Linked DNA regions of Homo sapiens: regions 1 and 3 are each linked to region 2. Evidence: fine-mapped expression QTL. A gene starts in region 2. Each other region holds a variant in brackets. All regions are shown on one strand. Distances are from middle to middle.

Region 1 (4,239 bases), 83 kb before region 2:
TCTCAGTGGGGAGGGGGCAGGGAGGGGCTGACTCCAGTCCCACGAGGGGATGAGCATGGAAGGAAGTAAGAGGCTGGAAGAGTGAGGCAGGCACTCTGGGAGGCCAAGGGCACAAGTAGCCCTGTCTTGGGGCCCTAACAGCAAGGCATGGCACCAACTGGAGAGGGACATTCTCCCCTAGTCTCTGAGACCACCCCCATGTCCTCAGAAGAGAAGAGTATTTGACAGAGGAGCGGGAGAGTGGACGGAGAACAGCAGCGGGGCCTGAGCAGACTGCAGCACAGAGGCCAGGGCAGACCAACCTGTGGGACGGCCAGGACTCCCAGAAAACCTGGAGAAGCTGCGTGGGAGGCTGGAGGAGTGGGAAGGAAATCCTACAGCATTGCAGAGGGGACTCCCAGGCAACAAAACTCAGGCACTACAAGTTCAGGTGACAACTTTGTGTCCACAGGCTGCCTCCCTGCCTCCTCTCCGCTTACCTCCTTAAAAGTAGCCCATTCTTTATTCAGGGTCCATCCACAGACCCAAGGGCTTCAGGGAAACCTCACCCCACCCCAAGCTTCCAAGCTTTAGGGTAGGCACAATCGGTCTAAAGGAAGTCGTCTCCCCTAGTTCCAGCAATGCGTTCAGGAAGCCAAGCTAAGTCAATCAGTGCAGGGCCTCCCCCAGCCAGGGGCCCAATTTGGATTAGGCAGGCGTGAGGGAGGTTTGCAGGGACTTACAGAAAAGATACTTCCGCACGCTTAGGGAAGAGCCACTAGCAAGACACCTGCCCTTACTCCAACCAGCGAGTGAGAAGCCCAATGCTGCCACGACTACATTGTCACCCTGAGAGAACTGCATGAGGACACGAACAGGATGCACAGTAGCAAAATGTAGAGAAACCAGGCCAGAGGCACCAAATAAGCCATCTGTTGGGAGTTGATGACACCTCATTGTTCAGGCTACCCTGAGTTGGGTTTCAGTTAGTTCAGCTCCGAATATTTGATGTTCAAGAAACCAAACCACTATCTCTTATTTTCCTTTTCTGGAAAAAGAAGACTGAGAACAAAATTGACTCTAAGAAAATGAGGATGTGCAATGAGGAAGCTGCTGATTAGCTTCTCGCCTACTCCAGCAAACTCATGGCTTGAGGGCACAGAAGAGGTGGCACCAAAGGGGTGGGGCCAGTTAGCAGCAACTGGGGAGAAGCTGAGCTGCCCATGGGACAGTCTCCCAAGTGTCCAAGGCTGGACTAGCCACCGGAGTACCTCATGCGTCTGCACAGCTCGAGGGAGACTCTGTCCAATCCCAGAGCTGGGAGGGTGCCCACAGATATGATCATGGAACTGAACCACAGCTCAGAACAAATGAAGCAGTGTTAACTAAAACCAAACCAACCACCACTGCAAAACAGTCACAGTACACGGGGGTCTGCACATGGAGACATGGGGAGGGGGTCACACCTGTGGGGGACTCTGGGACTGACAGACTCCGGTGGCTCTGCCCCTGCCACAGCTCCCCTGGGAATCGGCTCCAGGTAGTCACAGGGGCCTCCCACTCCCACCCCCATCACAGCCAAACAAAAGGCTTCCCCCACAGGGTTGGTGCAGACTGAGGGGCAGCCTCTCCCTTCCCAATGCTCTTGGAAGGGGTCCTTGGTCGGGTGGCCTCCCATGGGCAGGGTCAGTAGGCCAGACCTATTGAAAACCCTTCCATGACTAGAACCATGTGCCAGAAGAGGCTGGGGGATCCAGGAGGACTGAATGACCAGTGTCTGAGCTGAGTGAGGAAACAGAAGCCTGATCTCCATGACTCCGAGGGACATGGGGCACAGTGGGCGCTGCTCTAACTGTATTTCCTCCTAGGAACTCTGCCCAGCTCCTCCTGTGTCTGTCTCAAGCATGGGGCTCCCCACACCACCGACAAGACAAGCCACTGCCTTTATTTCTACAGAATGCACGGAGAGCAATACCAAGCAAATCCAAGCTTGGCAAATCCAAGCACACAACTCAACAGTGGGCATGGGGGTCTCACCC[T/C]TGCCCTGACCCCAAGGGGGCAAAACCAAGGTCTTGATCCACATGAATCCTGCTGTTACATCAGTACAATTTCTTGCATCCTTCCCTGAGGCCAAGAGAGCCCCCCAGTCTGTGCGGAATGGAATGGAAGAGCTCCCTTGTATACGTTATTTCCTTTTGTTTTCACAAGACCTTGTGAGGCTGGCTTCAGTCCCAGTTTATAGAAGAAACCTGAGGATCAGAGAAGTGAAGGCCAACTCTGTCTGAGCAGGGGTCCAAGCCTGGCTCTCCCTACCCCCAAACCCAAATGCTCTCCATTGCACCACCCGCCCACCCCAGTCTGTCAGCTGACTCGGATCAAGTCCAGTGTCTCTCTAGCCTGAGCTCCAGGAAGGCCACAGCTCTTAGGCGCATGACCCACACCAGGAGGTTTCAGTCTAGACAGGAGCTGGGAAGAACTTAAGCCCCTGGGCCAATCAGCAGGGGAGGAGGCCCAGCCTGTGGTTCCAAACACCAGGTCTTACTCAGTGTCCCCAACCACAAGCCACAGGTGAGTCAGCATGCCACTTCCCGAGCTGGGTCCCACTCCACGCCCTCACTTCTGTTCTTAGAAAAGGACGACCAGGCAATCTTGTAAAACCTTTGCTTCCCATTACTCGGCCCACACAGTCACCTGTGTGGCCTCTTTAGCTACATGAATCTTGCTCACCACCTTCAGCTTTTCATGCCAGCCAGCTGCCTGCCCCTTACACGTTCCTGTCTTTGGCCAGACGCAATGGCTAACGCCTGTAATCCCAGCACTTTGGCAGGCTGAGGCAGGCAGATCACCTGAGGTCGGGAGTTCGAGACTAGCCTGACCACCATGGAGAAACCCCATCTATACTAAAAATACAAAATTAGCCGGGCGTTGTGGCACATGACTAATCCCAGCTACTCGGGAGGCTGAGGCAGGAGAATCGCTTGAACCCGGGAGGTGGAGGCTGCAGTGAGCCGAGATTGCACCACTGCACTCCAGCCTGGGCAATAACAGCAAAACTCCGTCTCAAAAAAAAGAAAAAGAAGTTCCCGTCTTTAAGGATACTGTGTAACTGGAATCTTCCTCTCCAGCAATTAACACAGCCCTCTCGAATCCCTGGTGGCATAACTGCAGTTACATTCTGCACACCCCAACCTCGCCAGGGTAGACAGTGCCAGAAGAGGTGGGTCTTTTCCCTGGCGAGCTCTTCATTTGTTCACAGCCCAAAGAGCAAGAACACCCTTCAAGAAATTTTACTTCGAGGAGATGCAGGATTCCAATATGTGGGCTTTTCTGGGGACCTGAGCCTGCCATATAGCCTTCTGTCTAGGCCCCCACAGATCCTGAACCAAGGTTGCAAGAGCTTCTGAGAGGGAGAAAAAGATCAACCCAAGCACTGAAGGGGCAATGGTAATGTGCCCTCCCACCTTGTGAAGGGCTCCCCATCATGGCATTTTGGGAAGCCTTTTCCTAGAGCATCCCAGGAAATGAGGAAACACGAGCTCCCAGGCAGGAGCTGACGCCCCACATGCCACCGTGTGGTTCCCAGTACCTGGCTGAACTCCCTGCAGGTGGGAACCAAGACACCTTATTCTAGGTATGGGCAAAGGACCCAGCCAAAGTCAGTTCTATGCTACATTTTGCATAGGTAGTGACAATGACAGTAATCTGCATTTTGAAGGAGCCGAAACCTCTAAAAACATCTACTTTGGCCAGGCATGGTGGCTCACGCCTATAATCCCAACACTTTGGGAGGCTGAGGCAGGCAGATCACTTGAGGTCAGGAGTTCGAGACCGGCCTGGCCAACATGGTAAAACCCTGTCTCTACTAAAAATACAAAAATGAGCCAGGCGTGGTGGTGGGCGCCTGTAATCCCAGCTACTCGGGAGGCTGAGGCAGGAGAATTGCTTGAATCTGGGAAGCAGAGGTTGCAGTGAGCTGAGATCGCCTGAGTGATCCAGCCTGAGCAACAGAGCAAGATTCTGTCTCAAAATCAAAAAAACAAAAAACAAAAAACAAAAAAACCCCACATCTACTTTCTCAGTAATACTTCGTTGTGGATGACCGCTCCATCGAGGGCAGCTGGAGTTGTCCGGAGAGTGGCCAAGCTCTAGTCTTCCTTCCCTTTATCCCTTCTGTGGCTCTGGCTAAAAATACTTTTTACTTTGCCCTATGGCTGCCTGATTCTTGGCCTAGGAATAAGTCCAGAAACCTTAAAAACAAAG
Region 2 (4,239 bases):
ATATATAATAGTATACTTAATCCACATGTAAATGTTATAAACATTCCACAACAAACAAAGTAGCATTTAACATCAAGAGAAAAAGAGATAGGAGAAAGGGTTAAGGAACCAGTTCCAGGGTAAGGAAGAAGACAAAAGGAATCCTGGTCTGGGCTTGAGGGTCTTGCAGAGTCTTTGAGGGGCAGAGCCTTGGGAGGCAGATGCAGAGTTCTTATGAACGGCAGTGGGATGGTTGTCAGTTAAGGCTGCTGGGCTGCTGTTTTGTAGTCACAGAGTGCTCTGGTGAGAAATGGTAGAGGAACAGTGTGCTTCTTTGTGTCCTTATGTGGTTGGACGCAGTCTTTATTTATTTTTTTTTTTATTTTTTGAGACAGAGTCTTGCTCTGTCGCCCAGGCTGGGGTGCAGTGGTGTGATTTTGGCTCACTGCAACCTATGCCTCCCGGGTTCAAGCGATTCTTGTGCCTCAGCCTCCTGAGTAGCTGAGATTATAGGCACGGTGCCACCACGCCCAGCTAATTTTTGTATTTTTAGTAGACACGGGGTTTCACTATATTGGCCAGGCTGGTCTCGAACTCCTGACCTCGTGATCCACCCACCTCAGCCTCCCAACGTGCTGGGATTACAGGCATGAGCCACAGCGCCTGACCTTCTATTTTTTATTAAACAAAACATCTTGCCCTTGTTGGCAAAGCACCCTATGAAATATAAAATGAAGTCTTTTTCTAAGATGGAGTTAGTTATGTCAAGGGTGCGCAGTACTGTGCCATAAGCTCTCCCCCGGCTGCCCAGAGAGAAAACCTAAGGGCCTCTTAAAGACACCATCACAGCAGTTCAGCGGGGAGCAGGCAGGAATGGTTTCGGATCTAGTGGTGGTGAGAAGTAGACAGAGATCAGAGAAAGTTATAGGAGGTGAAAGTGGGAGGACCTTGGTTACAGACTGCCGGTGAAGAGGGACAAGGACAACCCGCAGGTCTCCGCTAGTCAGGTGGAAGGAAAGGAGGGGGCAGTGCCCTTCGCAGAGGCACAGGAAGCTGGGTCTTGATCACGCTGAACTCCAGACGCTCTCTAGATGTGCACGCATGTGCGTGTGGAGTGTGTGTGTGTGTGTGTGTGAGAGAGAGAGATGTGTTGGGGTGGGGGGACTGCAGGTCAGGAAGTCCTGCAGATGTGCGTGCCTGTGTGTGTTTGCGCGCGCGCGCGCGTGTGTGTGTGTCTGTGTGTGTGCCTGGAGCTGCGCTTGCAGGTCTGAGAGTCCTCTGAGAATGGGTTGGGGGAGGCGGGTGCAGGACCGAGGCCTGGAACAGCCAACAAAGAGGCCCTGGAGGAGGGTGGGGCTGGCCGGGGACAGGAGGGGTGGCCAAGAAAGTCGCAAGAAAACTCCGGCCCCCAAGAAAAAGAGAGGGCATGGGTTGCGGAGCCGACATCACGGCCGGGGTCTTTGCTGTTTAGACGCCTGGGTTCCCGGATCCCAGACACGCGCACGGGCAGGAAGTTAGACCGGAGACAGCGAGTATAGACAGCCCTTCTGGATAGGGGCAGACGGGTGGGAGCTCCGAAGGGGTGCCGGGGCGGTGATCGGGAGGTCTCCAGCGGCCCGAACCAGGGTGAAGAAGAAGGTGGAGTCTGCGGAGGCCCCAGGCCGGGGAGGGGGCGGGTCGGGCCCAGCATCCCCCGCAGCCGGGGTCCGAGGGGGAGGGGCGGGCTGGAGGAGCGGGTGGGGGCGGGGCGGGGCGTGGCGGCGGGGGATGCGCCCCTGCGCGAGCCAGTGTCGCCTGCCCTCCTTCCGCACAGCCCGGGTTTCCGCTTCCCTCCGGGCGCGAGAAGAGGGGAGCCAGGCCGAGCCCCGGCCCTACCGCCGCCGCCGCCATGTGGCCCCCAGACCCCGACCCCGACCCGGACCCCGAGCCTGCCGGCGGCTCCCGTCCCGGCCCCGCGGTCCCCGGGCTCCGCGCCCTGCTGCCGGCGCGGGCTTTCCTCTGCTCTCTCAAAGGCCGCCTCCTGCTGGCCGAGTCGGTGAGTGCGGCGGGACCCTCGGCCGCCCCGCTAGGACTGCGCGGCTCCTTTCGGAGGAGGACGTCGGGGCGCGGGTGGGGTCCGGGGGCGGCCGCCGTGCTCCGATACCCCCTCTCCGCGCCGCCTCGGCCGACTTCTCTCGGGCGCCTGGCGAAGTTGGGTCGAGGTCCCCAAACTTTGGACGGCGGGGCGGGGCCCGAGCCCAGGCCATCCGCGGCGCTGTCCCCGCGAGTCCAGAGCTGGGGGCCGTGGGAAGTGGGTGGGGCCCGGGGATGTGGGTCCTGCTGTGTGAGCCAGGCGCCCCCGCCCTCTCTGGGCCCCGGGGACTCGGGCAACTCGGACCTCCGGGACTCCCGGGCCGCAGCGGGGTCCGCTTTCCTGCGAGCGGGTAGTGCGGGCCGGGGCCTCGACCTGCGGGGCCGAGCCGGCGGGGGGCCGTGCGGAGCGGGAGGGATCCCCCACCCCCGGGACTGGGTGAGGCGGCCCCGCGGTGACTTCATCGCCCTCCTCCCCTCCGCGGCCGGGCTCCTTCCTACTCCGCCCTCGCCCCCACCCCGGCCGGTGGGGCTTCTTTGTCCTCTGGACACCGGAGGCGCCCGCACTGTCCGCTGTGGGGTAGGGGTGGCGCTGGGCCGTTGGGGATGGGGAGGGAGAGGCCGGGCCGGAGACCGGGGGAGGCGGGAGGAGAGAGCGGCGCACGGCGGCGGCCACTTGTTGCTTAGATCCCAGGAACTTGGCGCTTCCTGCCCTTGTCCCCACTTTACAGATGAGAGCGCTCAGGCGCCTGATTTGACAGGTGGCTCAACTGAGGGGCCCAGTGAGAGCGGCCAGGAGGGTGGGGGCAGGAGGAAGGGGGATTCTGCTCCGGGACCTCTCCCTGGTCACTCAGGGCAGAGGGCAGAAGGTGGTCCTGCAGCCTCTCCCACGGTCAGCCCAGAGGCCACCTGCCCAACGCCCAAGTGAGACACCAATGCCACACTCCGAGCCCACACTCCCAGCCCCACCCTGGAGACCACTGGGAGCCACTTGAGGGGAGAAGCCTCGAATCCACCGTCCCCAGAGTGGCTTGAACCCCCCCATCCCCACCCAAGACCACCTCATAAGAGGGAGGCATATGTCCAGCAGGAGCATAGAGGCCACCCTGGGCCCAGCAGATGTCAGGAATCCAGGTCAGGGAGGATAAGGAAGGGTGAACGGTCAGCACTCAGGGTTCACAGGAGCCGCTGAGGGCACTCCTGCCTCCCTAGTCCCCTCACTCCCACCCCCAGGCCAAGCAAGTGCAGAGGCTGAGATGGACAGAAACAGAGAGAGGAAGTGGCCCCAGAAATCGCGGGATGAAAAAACAGGAATTGAGAGGGGAATCCCCAGAATTAGGCTTTGGGGTGCAGGCATAGGAGACAGGAAGGGGAGGGCCAGAGCTGGGTCAGTCCCATGGAAGGCCTTCCTGGGAGGCCCCAGCAGCCTCCCAGCCCGTCTCTATGCCTTAGTCTATCTTTCCAAAGGGGGCTCAGCTGCACCCAAGGCCATGTGCAGAGCAAATGGGGGTGCTCTGGGGACCCCCTGGGATCCCTGCAGTTCATTTGTCTGAAGCAGCCACAGTGCTTCCTGTGGGGCATCTGGGTGTCCCCATGGGGACTCCTGCACCCACTAGAAACTACTCAGCCATAGACATGTTCAAACGCAGCCACAGTGACAGAAACCAGGGACAGATGGCCTCCCCAACACCCACAGGGCCAAGTTGCTTAAGAACTCTACCTGGGCCGGGCGTGGTGGCTCATGCCTGTAATCCCAACACTTTAGGAGGCCGAGGTGGGTGGATCACCTGAGGTCAGGAATTCGAGACCAGCCTGGCCAGCATGGTGAAACCCTGTCTCTACTAAAAATAAAAAAATTAGCTGGGTTTGGTGGCGGGCGCCTGTAATCCCAGCTACTCGGGAAGGCTGAGGCAGGAGAATCACTTGAACCCCGGAGGTGGAGGTTGCAGTGAACTGAGATCGTGCCACTGCACTCCAGCCTGGGAGACGGAGCAAGACTCCATCTCTGGGGCGGAGGTAAGATAACTCTATCTGGGGGGTCAGCCAGCCCTGGGTTCAAATTCTAGTAGCCTCTGATTAGCCATGTGACAGAGTCTTCTCATCTGTCAAGTGGGGCTGTGCTCATGGGTGGATGTGAGGGTCAGAGGAGATGCCCGTGAGCCTCAGGGTACCAGGCACTGTGGAGCCCCA
Region 3 (4,239 bases), 100 kb before region 2:
AGGCAGGGGTTGCAATCCTAGTCTCTGATAAAACAGACTTTAAACCAACAAAGATCAAAAGAGACAAAGAAGACCACTACATAATGGTAAAGGGATCAATTCAACAAGAAGAGCTAACTATCCTAAATATATATGCACCCAATACAGGAGCACCCAGATTCATAAAGCAAGTCCTTAGAGACCTACAAAGAGACTTAGACTCCCACACAATAATAATGGGAGACTTTAACAACCCACTGTCAACATTAGACAGATCAACGAAACAGAAAGTTAACAAGGATATCCAGGAATTGAACTCAGCTCTGCACCAAGCGGACCTAATAGACATCTACAGAACTCTCCACCCCAAATCAACAGAATATAATTCTTTGCAGCACCACACCGCACCTATTCCAAAATTGACCACATACTTGGAAGTAAAGCACTCCTCAGCAAATGTAAAAGAACAGAAATGATAACAAACTGTCTCTCAGACCACAGTGCAATCAAACTAGAACTCAGCATTAAGAAACTAACTCAAAACCGCTCAACTACATGGAAACTGAACAACCTGCTCCTGAATGACTGCTGGGTACACAACGAAATGAAGGCAGAAATAAAGATGTTCTTTGAAACCAACGAGAACAAAGACACAACATACCAGAATCTCTGGGACACATTCAAAGCAGTCTGTAGGGGGAAATTTATAGCACTAAATGCCCACAAGAGAAAGCAGGAAAGATCTAAAATTGACACCCTAACATCACAATTAAAAGAACTAGAGAAGCAAGAGCAAACACATTCAAAAGCTAGCAGAAGGCAAGAAATAACTAAGATCACAGCAGAACTGAAGGAGATAGAGACACAAAAAACCTTTCAAAAAAATCAATGAATCCAGGAGCTAGATTTTTGAAAAGAACAACAAAATTCATAGACTGCTAGCAAGATTAATAAAGAAGAAAAGAGAGAAGAATCAAATAGATGCAACAAAAAATGATAAAGGGGATTATCACCACCGATCCCACAGAAATACAAACTACCATCAGAGAATACTATAAACACCTCTACGCAAATAAACTAGAAAATCTAGAAGAAATGGATAAATTCCTCGACACATACACCATCCCAAGACTAAACCAGGAAGAAGTTGAATCCCTGAATAGACCAATAATAGGCTCTGAAATTGAGGCAATAATTAATAGTTTACCAACCAAAAAAAGTCAAGGACCAGATGGATTCACAGCCGAATTCTACCAGAGGTACAAGGAGGAGCTGGTACCATTCCTTCTGAAACTATTCCAATCAATAGAAAAAGAGGGAATCCTCCCTAACTCATTTTGTGAGGCCAGCATCATCCTGATACCAAAGCCTGGCAGAGACACAACAAAAAAAGAGAATTTTAGGCCAATATCCCTGATGAACATCGATGCAAAAATCCTCAATAAAATACTGGCAAACTGAATCCAGCAGCACATCAAAAAGCTTATCCGCCACGATCAAGTGGGCTTCATCCCTGGGATGCAAGGTTGGTTCAACATACACAAATCAATAAACGTAATCCAGCATATAAACAGAACCAAAGACAAAAACCATATGATTATCTCAATAGATGCAGAAAAGGCCTTTGACAAAATTCAACAACTCTTCATGCTAAAAACTCTCAATAAATTAGGTATTGATGGGACATATCTCAAAATAATAAGAGCTATCTATGACAAACCCACAGCCAATATCATACTGAATGGGCAAAAACTGGAAGCATTCCCTTTGAAAACTGGCACAAGACAGGGATGCCCTCTCTCACCACTCCTATTCAACATAGTGTTGGAAGCTCTGGCCAGGGCAATCAGGCAGGAGAAGGAAATAAAGGGTATTCAATTAGGAAAAGAGGAAGTCAAATTGTTCCTGTTTGCAGATGACATGATTGTATTTGTAGAAAACCCCATTGTCTCAGCCCAAAATCTCCTTA[G/A]GCTGATAGGCAACTTCAGCAAAGTCTCAGGATGCAAAGTCTCAGGATACAAAATCAATGTGCAAAAATCACAAGCATTCTTATACACCAATAATAGACAGAGAGCCAAATCATGAGTGAACTCCCATTCACAATTGCTTCAAAGAGAATAAAATACCTAGGAATCCAACTTACAAGGGACGTGAAGGACTTCTTCAAGGAGAACTACAAACCACTGCTCAATGAAATAAAAGAGGATAAAACAAATGGAAGAACATTCCATGCTCATGGGTAGGAAGAATCAATATCATGAAAATGGCCATACTGCCCAAGGTAATTTATAGATTCAATGCCATCCCCATCAAGCTACCAATGACTTTCTTCACAGAATTGGAAAAAACTACTTTAAAGTTCATATGGAACCAAAAAAGAGCCCACATTGCCAAGTCAATCCTAAGCCAAAAGAACAAAGCTGGAGGCATCACGCTACCTGACTTCAAACTATACTACAAGGCTACAGTAACCAAAACAGCATGGTACTGGTACCAAAACAGAGATATAGACCAACGGAACAGAGCAGAGCCCTCAGAAATATTGCCGCATATCTATAACCATCTGATCTTTGACAAACCTGATAAAAACAGGAAATGGGGAAAGGATTCCCTATTTAATAAATGGTGCTGGGAAAACTGGCTAGCCATATGTAGAAAGCTGAAACTGGATCCCTTCCTTACACCTTATACAAAAATTAATTCAAGATGGATTAAAGACTTAAATGTTAGACCTAAAACCATAAAAACACTAGAAGAAAACCTAGGCAATACCATTCAGGACATAGGCATGGGCAAGGACTTCATGTCTAAAACACCAAAAGCAATGGCAACCAAAGCCAAAATTGACAAACGGGATCTCATTAAACTAAAGAGCTTCTGCACAGCAAAAGAAACTACCATCAGAGTGAACAGACAACCTACAGAATGGGAGAAAATTTTTGCAATCTACTTATCTGACAAAGGGCTAATATCCAGAATCTACAATGAACTCAAACAAATTTACAAGAAAAAAAACAAACAACCCCATCAAAAAGTGGGCAAAGGATATAATAGACACTTCTCGAAAGAAGACATTTATGCAGCCAAAAGACACATGAAAAAAATGCTCATCATCACTGGCCATCAGAGAGATGCAAATCAAAACCACAATGAGATACCATCTCACACCAGTTAGAATGGTGATCATTAAAAAGTCAGGAAACAACAGGTGCTGGAGAGGATGTGGAGAAATAGGAACACTTTTACACTGTTGGTGGGACTGTAAACAAGTTCAACCGCTGTGGTAGTCAGTGTGGCGATTCCTCAGGGATCTAGAACTAGAAATACCATTTGACCCAGCAATCCCATTACTGGATATATACCCAAAGGATTATAAATCATGCTGCTATAAAGACACATGCACATGTATGTTTATTGCAGCATTATTCACAATAGCAAAGACTTGGAACCAAGCCAAATGTCCAACAATGATAGACTGGATTAAGAAAATGTGGCACATACACACCATGGAACACTATGCAGCCATAAAAAATGACGAGTTCATGTCCTTTGTAGGGACATGGATGAAGCCGGAAACCATCATTCTCAGCAAACTATCGCAAGGACAAAAAACCAAACACCACATGTTCTCACTCATAGGTGGGAACTGAACAATGAGAACACATGGACACAGGAACGGGAACATCACACACTGGGGCCTGTTGTGGGGTGGGGGGACGGGGGAAGGATAGCATTGGGAGATATACCTAATGTTAAATGACGAGTTAATGGGTGCAGGACACCAAGATGGCATATGTATACATATGTAACTAACCTGCACGTTGTGCACATGTACCCTAAAACTTAAAGTATAATTTAAAAAAAAAATTAAAATTAGCCAGCCATGTAGTCCCAGCTACTCAGGAGGCTGAGATGGGAGGACTGATTGAGCCCAGGAGCTCAAGGCTGCAGTGAGCCGTGATTACACCACTGCACTCCAGCCTGGGTGACAGAGTGAGACCCTGTCTCTTAAAATAAATAAATGGAAAAAAAAAAGAACAGGCTGATCTGGAGGCAGAGCAGGTCAGCAATCTCAGGAGGATGAGGCAAGAGGTTGCGTCAGCTTGGAACCATGACAGCCACTCCAAGGCATATCCCCCAGGGCACCTGACCTGCAGCAAAGGAACCTGGGAGAGCAACTTAGGCCAAGGATTCCAGGGGCAGGAAAGGCGAGCTAATTATTTTTTTTTTATTCATTCTTTTCTGACCATTAACATAATA

Evidence for each region. PIP is the estimated chance that this variant, and not a neighbour inherited with it, causes the effect. A credible set is the group of variants that fine-mapping cannot tell apart.
Region 1: its variant is the best candidate, but not a certain one, in a credible set for the expression of CMTM3 in whole blood (TOPMed, PIP 0.68).
Region 3: its variant is the best candidate, but not a certain one, in a credible set for the expression of CMTM3 in whole blood (INTERVAL, PIP 0.88).

What each region holds. Positions count from the first base shown.
Region 1 is chr16:66,519,824-66,524,062 of GRCh38, forward strand. All of the region lies in intron 6 of TK2 (thymidine kinase 2), which reads right to left. Among named protein-coding and RNA genes, the nearest start is that of TK2, 28 kb to the right of the region's middle. RefSeq lists enhancers at 205-705, 2,610-2,679, 4,079-4,188. The variant T/C (reference allele first, on the strand shown) is at 2,019.
Region 2 is chr16:66,602,939-66,607,177 of GRCh38, forward strand. It overlaps CMTM3 (CKLF like MARVEL transmembrane domain containing 3), which reads left to right and starts at 1,766. Exons shown (of 5, transcript NM_181553.4): 1 at 1,766-2,014. The coding sequence starts at 1,868. It also overlaps a transcript of CMTM4 not described here. RefSeq lists silencers at 1,651-2,490, 2,551-2,770.
Region 3 is chr16:66,498,282-66,502,520 of GRCh38, forward strand. No RefSeq gene overlaps it. Among named protein-coding and RNA genes, the nearest start is that of BEAN1-AS1, 24 kb to the left of the region's middle. The variant G/A (reference allele first, on the strand shown) is at 1,949.